Linked DNA regions of Homo sapiens: region 2 is linked to region 1. Evidence: fine-mapped expression QTL. Tissue or cell type: aorta. Region 1 holds a variant in brackets; the other region holds the start of a gene. All regions are shown on one strand. Distances are from middle to middle.

Region 1 (5,227 bases):
TCTGGCCTAGCAGGGGAAACAGATGTATAAACAATGACTGCTGTGCAAAATGATAGGAGCTTTGATGAAGGCATGCGTGCCATCAAGAGACCCTCTGTGAACCACGCACTGTGAAAAGCAGTGGGGATAAGAAAATGAAAAATCTTGGCCCTTGCTCTTAAATAGCATTGAGAGACAGATGCACAGGCAAGTAAAGACAAGATAATATTTGTTCCAATTGAGGTGAGGGTGAAGCCTGGGAGTTGAGGAGAAACACATTCACGTCTACTCAACAGCACCTGGGGAGACTGAGTAGCAGGGCTGGCATTTCAGTAGGGCTGAAAGGATGAGACGTTTCTGCACGGTGAGTGCTTGTGCACGTGCAAACACTTGACGTCTCTGGAGAGAGGGGATTATTTAGGGGGCATGAGCTTTGTCATTGGGGCCCTTCCTGGGATAGTGGAGATCTGGCAGGGCTGATAGCTGACAAATAGGTCTTGAAGGGCCCTGTCTGTCATACAAAGGAGTTTATGTTTAAGACAGCACAGAGGGAGGAACATTGACTAAGTGTTTAAGGAAGCAGAGGACATGATTGCATTTCAGTATCCAGGACAATCTACTCTCCATTTTCCCTTATAATGAACTATTAGGTTTATGTCAAGTGGAGCAGGGAGGACGTGAACAGTCTAGAGAGAGAGATGTGAAGGCTTTCCTGAGGACTGTAGCCCTGGGCAAGGGAAGGGGTGGGGGATTGAAGAGATGGGAAGGAGACAATGAGGGGATCCGGGCTGGTGGCTGGCTGGATGTGTCTGGTGAGGAGAGGGCTGAGCGACAAGGGTGCCCAACTGTCTGGGTGCATGGTGGAACCGTTCTTGAGACAGGGAACACATGATGAGCTATGCAATGGTCAAGAAAATTAATGCATCCTGCTTTTGAGTCCTTATGGGGTACAAGCTAATTAGCCAGCAGTTAGATCTATTCATCCAAGCATGGCAAGGAAGCCTTGGATTCAAATGCTGTCACCCAGAGAGAATGTATAGTGAGCAAAGAGAGGCAAGGGCCACTGAGGAGCATCTGCCTTTCGGGATGGACACAGGGATGGGGCCTTCCGCAGGTTTCAAGGGGAATGGAAGAGAGGAAGAAGGAGGTGGGAGGGTGGATTCTGGAAACTGAGTGAGGGTGGGAGAGAACATCAAGGAGAAGAATGTGGCCAGCAGTGTCCAGTATTCGGCGGTCCTTCCTAATGAGATCACGGTTGTGTTTCTCGTGACTGAGTATGATTCTGCAGCTTGGTTTTCATAAACTCCTGATCTTTCATAGGTATGCGTGTACCACTGTCACGCCGTCTCATTTTCTTGGACACCTATGTCGTTTCTACTTTTTCACTCCACAGTGATGGCACACTTTTATCACAACATAGCGATGAGTAACATTTGCATAGCTATTTACCCAGTTCTCTTTTTGTTACTTCAGGACAAATTGCAAGAAATGAAATATGTGTGTCCAAGATGGCTCATGTTTTAAAGTCTTTTGGGATGCATCATCAAACTGCCCGCTAGAGAAGCTACACCAACTTATACGCCCACTAATGGTCTTTTATTGTATTGTATTGTATTTTATATTTTGTTTTTGTTTTTGAAACAGAGTCTCACCCTGCCATCCAGGCTAGAGTGCAGTGGTGTGATCTCAGCTCACTGCAACCTCTGCCTCCCAGGTTCAAGTGATTCTCGTGCCTCAGATTCCCGAGTAGCTGAGATTACAGATGCCCACCAGCATGCCCGGCTAATTTTTTGTATTTTTAGTAGAGACAGGGTTTTGCCATATTGGCCAGGCTGGTCGGTCTGGAACTCCTGGCCTCAGGTGATCCACCCACCTTAGCTTCCCAAAGTGCTGGGAATACAGCCGTGAGCCAATGCACCCAACCCACTAATGGTCTTTTAAATGTCTCATCTCTCATCTAAAAATATGTTCATTTTTACTAAATCTTTGTTGCTAATTTGATTTGTGAAATTGATGTTGCATTATTTTGATTGGTTAAAATTACTAGTGAAGTTAAAATTTTAAACAATTTATTCTAAACAACAACAGTGAAAACAAACAAACCAACCAACCAAACTAACAGCAACAGAAACAATAGCTCCTCTGGGATGGAGGGGATTGAGGGATTGAGCTCCATGCCTGGCTCACAGTGTCACGTTTAATTATTCCCACATTGATGGGAGCTTTGCATTTTGTAGATGGGCAACAGAGGCTCAGAGAGGTTTTGTAATTGCTCTTAGTCACACAGCTGCTTTTGAATTCAACCCAGTCTGAAAGTCAGACAAAGAGCTTGGGCCCCCTCTTTTTTTTTGTCTTTTCTTTTTCTTTTTCTTTTTTTTTTTTTTTTTTGAGATGGAGTCCCACTCTGTCACCCAGGCTGGAGTACAGTGGCGCAATCTAGGCTCACCACAACCCCTCCTCCCGGGTTCAAGCAATTCTCC[C/T]GCCTCAGCCTCCCGAGTAGCTGGGATTACAGTCACCTGCCACCATGCCTAGCTAATTTTTGTATTTTTAGTAGAGACGAGGTTTCATCATGCTGGCTAGGCTGGTCTGGAACTCCTGACCTCAGGTGATCCACCAGCCTCGGCCTCCCAAAGTGCTGGGATTACAGGTGTGAGCCACCGTGCCCAGACTGTTTTTCTTTTGGCCTATTTATTGTTCTACTTTAAATATTTCTTTACTGATTGAATTACTTTCACAAATATTGCTAATTTTAAAGTATTTATCATTTTCTTTTTATTTATATGGTTTTAAATTTTTCTGAACTCATACCTTTTAATTTTTTTTTTTCCTTACAAAGTTCATCTCTGCTGCTGTGCTTATAAATGCCATCTTTAATTCCAGGTTAAAAAACACTAGAGTGAATGCGGTTTGGGCGTCTGCTCAGCCCCTGGTTCCCCTTCTCTGAGAATGGCCCCCTGACATCCCGCCCCACTTCCCTAATAATGTGGGCTCCAGGAGCCAGGTTTTGCTCAATGAACCACAGCAGAGGACAACATCCGAGGGTTAACTCTGCTTTCTAGGAGCAAACTGAATCTCAATAGTTATATTAGGCAGTCGGGCTTAGGAGTGGCTGACGCTCAGAGATGTCAGGCTGTGACTCATACATGGATATCACAACCTGAAATTGAGAGGCAGCTCACCAGGGTTCCGCTGCCAGGGAAACCTCAGGTGGGGAGCTGAGGACCCAGGGCTCTCAGCACTCAGGTCATCCTTGGGTTCAAAAACCAGTGGGCCAACCGCAGCTCTAAGTGGCCTGCCAAGGAGAAAAAGAGAGGCTGCCAAATATCCCAAACATCAGGGCGCAGCACCACCATGGCGTAACAGCGCCCCTCACGGCGGGATGCCCAGACAGGAGCGTTTGCCCCTCTTACCTTGTGAGGGGCGTGGGAGAAGTGGCCATTGGTGTCCACCCAAGAGTTTAGGCTTCTTTTCTTTTTGTTAGGGTCTCGAAGAGTGCCTTATTTGGTTGAAACATGCAGGGACTAGGAGATCTAATAAGGCTGCTTGTGAGTTATACAAGCAGCCCAGAAGCTGTGCAGCAGAAGTCCTGGACTTACTGTGAGGTTGATGAAAAGGGAAGGGGAAGCGAGAGCAAAGCCATCTTCATTTCCCAAAACACTCCAGGTCTTATTCAGTCCCATGCGGGCCTTTAGTAGAAAGAGCAATGATAGTATATCATAAATTATAATGAATTCACTTTCTACATCATTTAGGTTGAAACCTTTTCTGTTACTTATAACCACATAGTAAACCATAAGAAATTGTCACCCATATTTTCTCCTAGTATTTTTAAATTTAAATTTTATTTAATTTTAAATTTAAATATCTGAGATGTGGATTTTTTTGGAGGGAGGTTTAATGTAGGAATTTTATTTTTTTTCCAAATTATCAATCAATTGTCCCAGCACCATCTGTTGGTATACTATCATATCATTTTGCTATAAATAGTATTTTGATATTAATTTCCAACATTTGTAGCTCTTATTTTTCTTATTTTATTAAACTTCCTAGTACTTACACATCATGGTGTGGTATTAAGCATTTCTATCTTCACTGAGAATGTCTCATTCATTGTTTTCTGGTATTAGGTTCTGAATTTAGACGTTAAGCAATCATGTTATATACTATGTTATATATATTTATGTTAAATATTTTTCTCTTTTAATGTATTGTTTTTTACAATTAGGAATAAATGTTGAATTTTGTCAAAAGTATTTTTTTTAGATTAGAAGTTCAGAAATGTTCTTCTTTATTTCTTTGACAATTTATTCTAACCTGTTCCTAACTTCTCCTCAAGGCAGAACAATCCTGCTGTGCAATTATTGTTTTGAAATATCTAGTGGGTCAGGCTAAGGCTACACTTCACGTGAGACCACGATATTGCATGATAAGTATGAAACATTCTCTCATTTGACTTTCTGGCAAGTTCGTGAAGAGAGTCACACTTGTCAAAATGCTCCAGGGATTTAATCATCTTTCCAAGGCCTCTCTTAATCCCTTAGATGTTTTGGGATTAAGTCTTGTTGCGAGTCACTGATAATGTCACCAATTTTGTTAACTTTTCCCTTTTCAGTGATAACTGTTCTACCAGACTTTGTGATTCCAGAAGTCCTCTAGTATGACTGTCACCTGCTACACAAAATCTTACATTCTTTGAAGAAGTTTGCAGTTAATTTGCATTGTATTTCTGTTGTATTAATAGCCTCCTCCAATCAGGAAGAGAATGGCTGCGCCTGACATGGTTTGACTGTGTTATGGCAGCTGCAGTGTTAAGCAGGGAGAGGGGAAGGCATGGAGGCTAATTTGGCAAGTGGTCAGCTCTTCAGTGAATGTTTTCTGGTTGAGAACAATTTTTGCTTCCCCCTGCCAACTGCTTGCTGAGAACACTCTGATACTTAGAGTTCACTCAGAAATGAGGAGGGAATTGTGTGTTTTTCGGTAGCAATTGGTATAAATATTTATACAAGGAGAGACCAGGAGAAACACCACTATGCTAAGAAGGACGCTGAATATTAATAGATGAATGGATAAACAAAATGTGGTCTATCCACACGGTGGAGTATTATTCAGCCTTAAAAAAGTAGGGGATTCTGACCCATGTTACCTACAACCTGGCTGAACGTTGAAGAGAAGAAAGCAAAATAAGCCGGTCAGAAAGGGACAAATACCGCACTATTCCTCTTATGGGAGCAACCTGAAATAGTCCAAT
Region 2 (5,227 bases), 100 kb before region 1:
CAGTGTAAATGCCATGTAAACAGTTGTTATACTGTGTCATTTAGAGAATGATGACAAGGAAAAACATCTGTACATGTTCAGTATATATGCAATCATCTACTTTAAAAAGCATTTTTGAACCACAGTTGGTTAAATCCATGGATGCAGAACCCATGGATACGAGGTCGACTGTAATAGAAACTTTCAATACCAAGGAATGCATCTGCCTAGCGATTTTGCGAAAAAGAGTGTATTTGTATTTGAAAGAAACCGTGGAGTGGAAACACCTAAAACGTGCTTGTTCAGTTAACCTCAGTTTGCTGAGCTGCTTGGAGCATGGGGTTGTAATCAAAGATTGTCTTCTTCGCAGCAGACAATGTTCTGGGAGAAATAGTCCTCCTTAGTGCTGAAGTTGCAGACTCTAACCAAGGGGGTGGCAGCAAGTATCCCCGGTCTCTGTAGGGGCTTGAGTCAACGCCTGCACTGTGCAGAGAGGATGAGGGCAGAGAATTGGATGCCGCTGGAGGGGCGTGTTGTCCTTCTACATGTCATGCAGGCAGCGCGGTTCTATACTCGGAGCCTCTGCTCAGCGTGTCTTCACCTAAGAACCCCATAATTCAGGTTCCATCCTTGTTCCCTACTCCAGTGCTCTGCAAGTGAGCCCTTTGGTTTAGAGATGGGTTGGGCTTCTTTATGGGAGAGGAAGGGAGCCCTGGAGCTGCAGAGGGGAGCAGGCATTCTCTCTGGGGTGCTGTCTCCTTTCTTCCCTAAATTGGAGGGAGATAATCCATGGAAAGGAGTTAATGATTTCTTTGCTCTTCAAACTTGGTTTGGAAGGATCTCTCAGTCAAAAAGAACCTTTCGGATGTCTCTTGATATTTCACATTAATGGACTTTTCATAAGGACCACATGATGGGAGAGCAGTGAGAAGTTTGGGGATGGCCAAAGCTGGGTTGTCATTTGAGCTCTGTTACTAACCCAGACTGGACAATGACGATGTCACTTACTCTCTCGGAACTTCTTTTCTTTTCTTCTTTTCTTTTCTTTTTTTCTTTTTTCTCTTCTCTTCTCTTCTCTTCTCTTCTCTTCTCTTCTTTTCTTTTCATTTCTTTTCTTTCTTTCCTTTTTCTCTTTTTTGGAGTCTCACTCTGTTGCCCAGGCTAGAGTGCAGTGGCGCCATCTCGGCTCACTGCAACCTCTGCCTCCTGGGTTCAAGCAATTGTCCTGCCTCAGCCTCCCAAATAGCTGGGACTACAAGCGCCTGCCACCATGCCTGGCTAATTTTTATATTTTTAGTAGAGATTTAGTAGGGGTTTCACCATGTTGGCCAGGCTGGTCTCCAACTCCTGACCTTGTGATCTGCCTGCCTTAGCCTCCCGAAGTGCTGAGATTACAGGCATAAGCCACCGTGCCCAGCCTGTTTCTTTCATCTGTAAAATGGGACCACAATTTCACCTAATAAAAGAAGACATCTTTCTATTTAAAAGGGCTTAGGGTGTTGATGTTTGTGATAAAGGAGAGAATGTATATTGAAGTGTTTTGAAATGTGCAAAGCTTTCTAGAAACAGAAGTTCTTACTCAAGTATTTTCCCGAAGCTTTGGCAAGATAACCATTTTTATTACCCCGTCTGTGCCTAGAATGGGCCTATAAGCGCCACAATCAGAATCATTAGATATAGAAATTAAGAGAAATGTAGCCTCCTTTTTTTTGCCGGTGAACAGAGCTTTGGTTAACAGAAAACCAAGGCGATTTTAATTGCTGGTTTTTCTATTTGAAGGGGGAAGTTATTAGTAGAAGTCTCAATTCAGAAACTTCAAGAAGAAATGGGAGGGTGTGGTGAGGGTAAGCGGGGGACTGCATTTCCTGTTTTCCTTTCAGATGGTGTTGGAAAACATTGCAGGAAAACCATGGATACCCACGAAGAAATTCCAAAATTTATTCTTTTTGACGCCAAGGGCCCAGCCCAAAAGGTGACGAGTAGGAGTGGTCAATTTTTTTTTTTAAGAGTTGGGGCTTGCAGGAGTCCAGCTAAACGCTTGTAGGGTGAAGACAGAATTCAGAGGGTGACATCAGCCTGAGCGGGGGCCAGAAGAAACAGAGTGGAGGAGTCTGGTTTCATTTACAGTTTTGGGTCAGTTCTGCAGTGAGGAGGGGGAGAGGAGGGGTCCGGGAGGGAGGAGGAGGAGGAGGAGGAGCTGGAGGAAGCCCTGACTGGTATCCCTGGCCCCAGTCCAGTTTGGAGCTCAGTCTTCCACCAAAGGCCGTTCAGTTCTCCTGGGCTCCAGCCTCCTGCAAGGACTGCAAGAGTTTTCCTCCGCAGCTCTGAGTCTCCACTTTTTTGGTGGAGAAAGGCTGCAAAAAGAAAAAGAGACGCAGTGAGTGGGAAAAGTATGCATCCTATTCAAACCTAATTGAATCGAGGAGCCCAGGGACACACGCCTTCAGGTTTGCTCAGGGGTAAGTGTGATTTCTCTTCTGTTTTTCCAGGTTTGGGGCTAGAAGGAAATGCTCTTAACCTGAAGTGATCCTTTCTAGGTAGCGTTAGTGGCTCTTACGTTCATGCTGATCGCCAGTTTTCTGTACATGTTTTAGGTCTCTGGAAGATTCCGCTGATTTTTCTTTCTCACTTTATGGCAATGGGATTTCCTTAAATTGGTTAAGGTCATGATTGCCTAAGAGTGTGAGCACTTTTCCACCGCGTGTCTGTGGCTGCTACACGCGCCCTGTGCATTCCGGGCGGCAGTGTGTTTCGGCCCATGATTTATTTAAGTTACTGCCGCCTTCTAAAACCCATTCGGGATCCGCTTTGTTTGCAGAAGCGTCTTTGCTGAGGACTAGCATAGCTCCCTGCCGGGCGGCTCCGCTGGGAGATGTTCTCTGAGCTCTCTGGGTGGTGACACTAGGTCAGGGTGCAACAACCTGCATGGGTTTTCTGCCCAGGGCCGCCCATGGGAAGGTCCTGGTGGAGCACATTTGCTGCTTTCACAAGATTGGAGTAACTCTGGTGCTCAGGATCAGGGCCAAGTAAAGGGTCGCTCAGTCATTGCCGTCAAGCTTTCGTCTTTCCAGGAACCTGAAGTCTCTATTGGAGACTTTGTCCCTTGGGGTTGCTTAAAGGAGTTGCAGGGGTCAGAGGAGAAGAAGGAATTGGGCATTTGGGCAGCATGCTGAGTGTCTAAGGCAGGGCCCCTGGGGCTGCAGGGCCAGCCCATGCTGCACAGAGGTGAGGCCAGTGCCGAGCTGGGAGGCCCCGAGGGCTGTTCTCTGGCCCGGAGGATGCAGGGTGGGGCTCGGGCCCTCTCTTGCTGAGGATGGACACGTTCGCTGACAGTGGCCAGCCTGTTTGGGGAACCTGTTTCAAGGGGCCTACTATGTTGGATAATGAACGGGTATTGAAGTATGGGTGGGGTCACTGGGAGGGACTAGGGAGTGGTTAAAGAAAAATCTGCTTCCACAGGAAGCCCCAGGAGCCAGTTTCGAGGCCGGTGCAGACCCCAGGAGCAAACCCCTCTGAGCACAGGGGAGTCTGCTGTGCTGGATGGGGAGGCAGGGCTGTGGCCCCGGCTGACTGGCTTCTCTCCCCACATACAGCTCACCCCGGCGAGGACCACAGGGTGCTAGAGCTGCAGGGTGCTCAGAGCTCACGGGGATGGTGGATGCTCAACCTGGGATCCCCCAGCTCCCCAGGGTCCCATTCTTAATGCTGTAAAAAACAACCGAAATGGCTTTAAAATCAAAGTTACATTGCTCCTAAGCAAAACTATATTGAAAACTGAGTGGGTGGCCGTTGATGACATTACTGGGACTTCTGAGGTTTTTGTTGGGCTAAAGATAATGGAAGAGATTTTTGGTCAGAAGCCACTGATGCAGTAGTTTCCTGGTTTTCAAAATGAGCAACCAGGGGCTCTGAGATGCGGAATTCCTTGCCCAGGCCAGGGAGCGAGTGCCTGAGATGGCAGTGAAATCCTTCCCCATTGAAGGAGAGCAGACAAGCCAGTGACGGAGGATCCCAAATAACTCACATCTCGTTGGGAAAACTGCTTTGGGCTCACTAAGACTCTACCAATGAACCGAGAAAGAAGGGAGGTGGACCGTGGGGCGGGGGCATCGGTTCCGTGACCGGAATACCGGGGCTGGCCGCCCTGCTCAGGCCACCTCCTGGGGGTGGAGGGCGCTGAAGGAGGGGACCTGTATGCTCTTCTTTCTGAAGTGGGCTTGTAGCTGAGGATGAAAGCCTGGGTGGGGAGGCGTGGCTTTTACAAAGATCAGGATGTAGGAACAGCTGCCTGTCTGGACTTCTTTGTTTAGGGGGTTTCTTGCTACCCAGAGGTTTAGTTCTCTCCTTTCCTCACTCATGGTCGAGAGAAGCCAGGAAGCAGACACTGAGTGGAGCAGAGGGCTTGGGAAGGAATTCCATGTTGGGGTGAAGTGAGGCTGTCCTGGCTTTTCCTATCCAGGCATTGGAGGGTGTGGCTACAGCACCTTTCTGGGAGGTGGCTGGGGAAGCCTCTAGAATGTTAGCCCTTGGCCCCGCTCTTTCCCTGCTTGGCAGGGAGCGTGTTCCACCCCACTATAGTTGTGGCCCACAGGTGAGGGGACATGTGGCAAATGTCCAAACCTGGGGTCTGAATGATATTTTTGATACGAGGTAGGCACCTTTCTGAAAAATTGTCTTTACTTCACACTTCATTTTATTTCTAAAGCATTCAGGACTCAGCAAATTGCACTGACTTTATCATCAGTGCCTTTTGTGATTTCCTATCCTAGAACTTAATACGTCCCCGATGAGAAAGTAGGAAGAAGCTCCTCTCTTCAGTCGATTGTTGATTTATGGTTCCAATGAGGCTGCTCATCCTGACCTTAGTTTCAGGAACGGAACCCATAGACCTGGATGCCTAAAGCCAGCTTGAAACAAGACCGCCTTCTTTGGAAGCTTTGGAAGCTGGCAGTGACTTTTTGCCAGCGAGGTTTCATTTGTTTCCTTGCTCAGAGTGTTCAGACAACTGGATCAAGCGTAGTCTTCACCAGCGGTTGATATCACCTCCCACTTATATGTGAAATTCCATGTTTAGGACTTAAAATTCACCGGCAAGTCGTGAATACTATTGCGTGACACTTCCTTGCAGGCGCAGTAACAGCTTTAGCAAAAATTTTTATTTGAAAGTTCAGTTTTGTCACTGCTCTTTTTGGAAGAAGCTGAAAATCTGCTATCTCTTGGGGGAAGGATTGCAGGCGGTTTCCATCTG

Which allele goes with the higher level. Positions count from the first base shown, and alleles are read on the strand shown. Sizes are in standard deviations (SD) of each study's normalised expression.
With allele T in place of C in region 1, the expression in aorta of the gene that starts at base 2,227 in region 2 is lower (small effect, 0.18 SD a copy in GTEx).

What was found. PIP is the estimated chance that this variant, and not a neighbour inherited with it, causes the effect.
Region 2: COL6A3 starts here. The variant in region 1 is fine-mapped to the expression of COL6A3 in aorta (GTEx, PIP 0.95).

The regions. Positions count from the first base shown.
Region 1 is chr2:237,308,820-237,314,046 of GRCh38, reverse strand. No RefSeq gene overlaps it. Among named protein-coding and RNA genes, the nearest start is that of COL6A3, 100 kb to the left of the region's middle. RefSeq lists an enhancer at 1-870. The variant C/T (reference allele first, on the strand shown) is at 2,460.
Region 2 is chr2:237,411,164-237,416,390 of GRCh38, reverse strand. COL6A3 (collagen type VI alpha 3 chain) reads left to right here and starts at 2,227. Exons shown (of 44, transcript NM_004369.4): 1 at 2,227-2,438.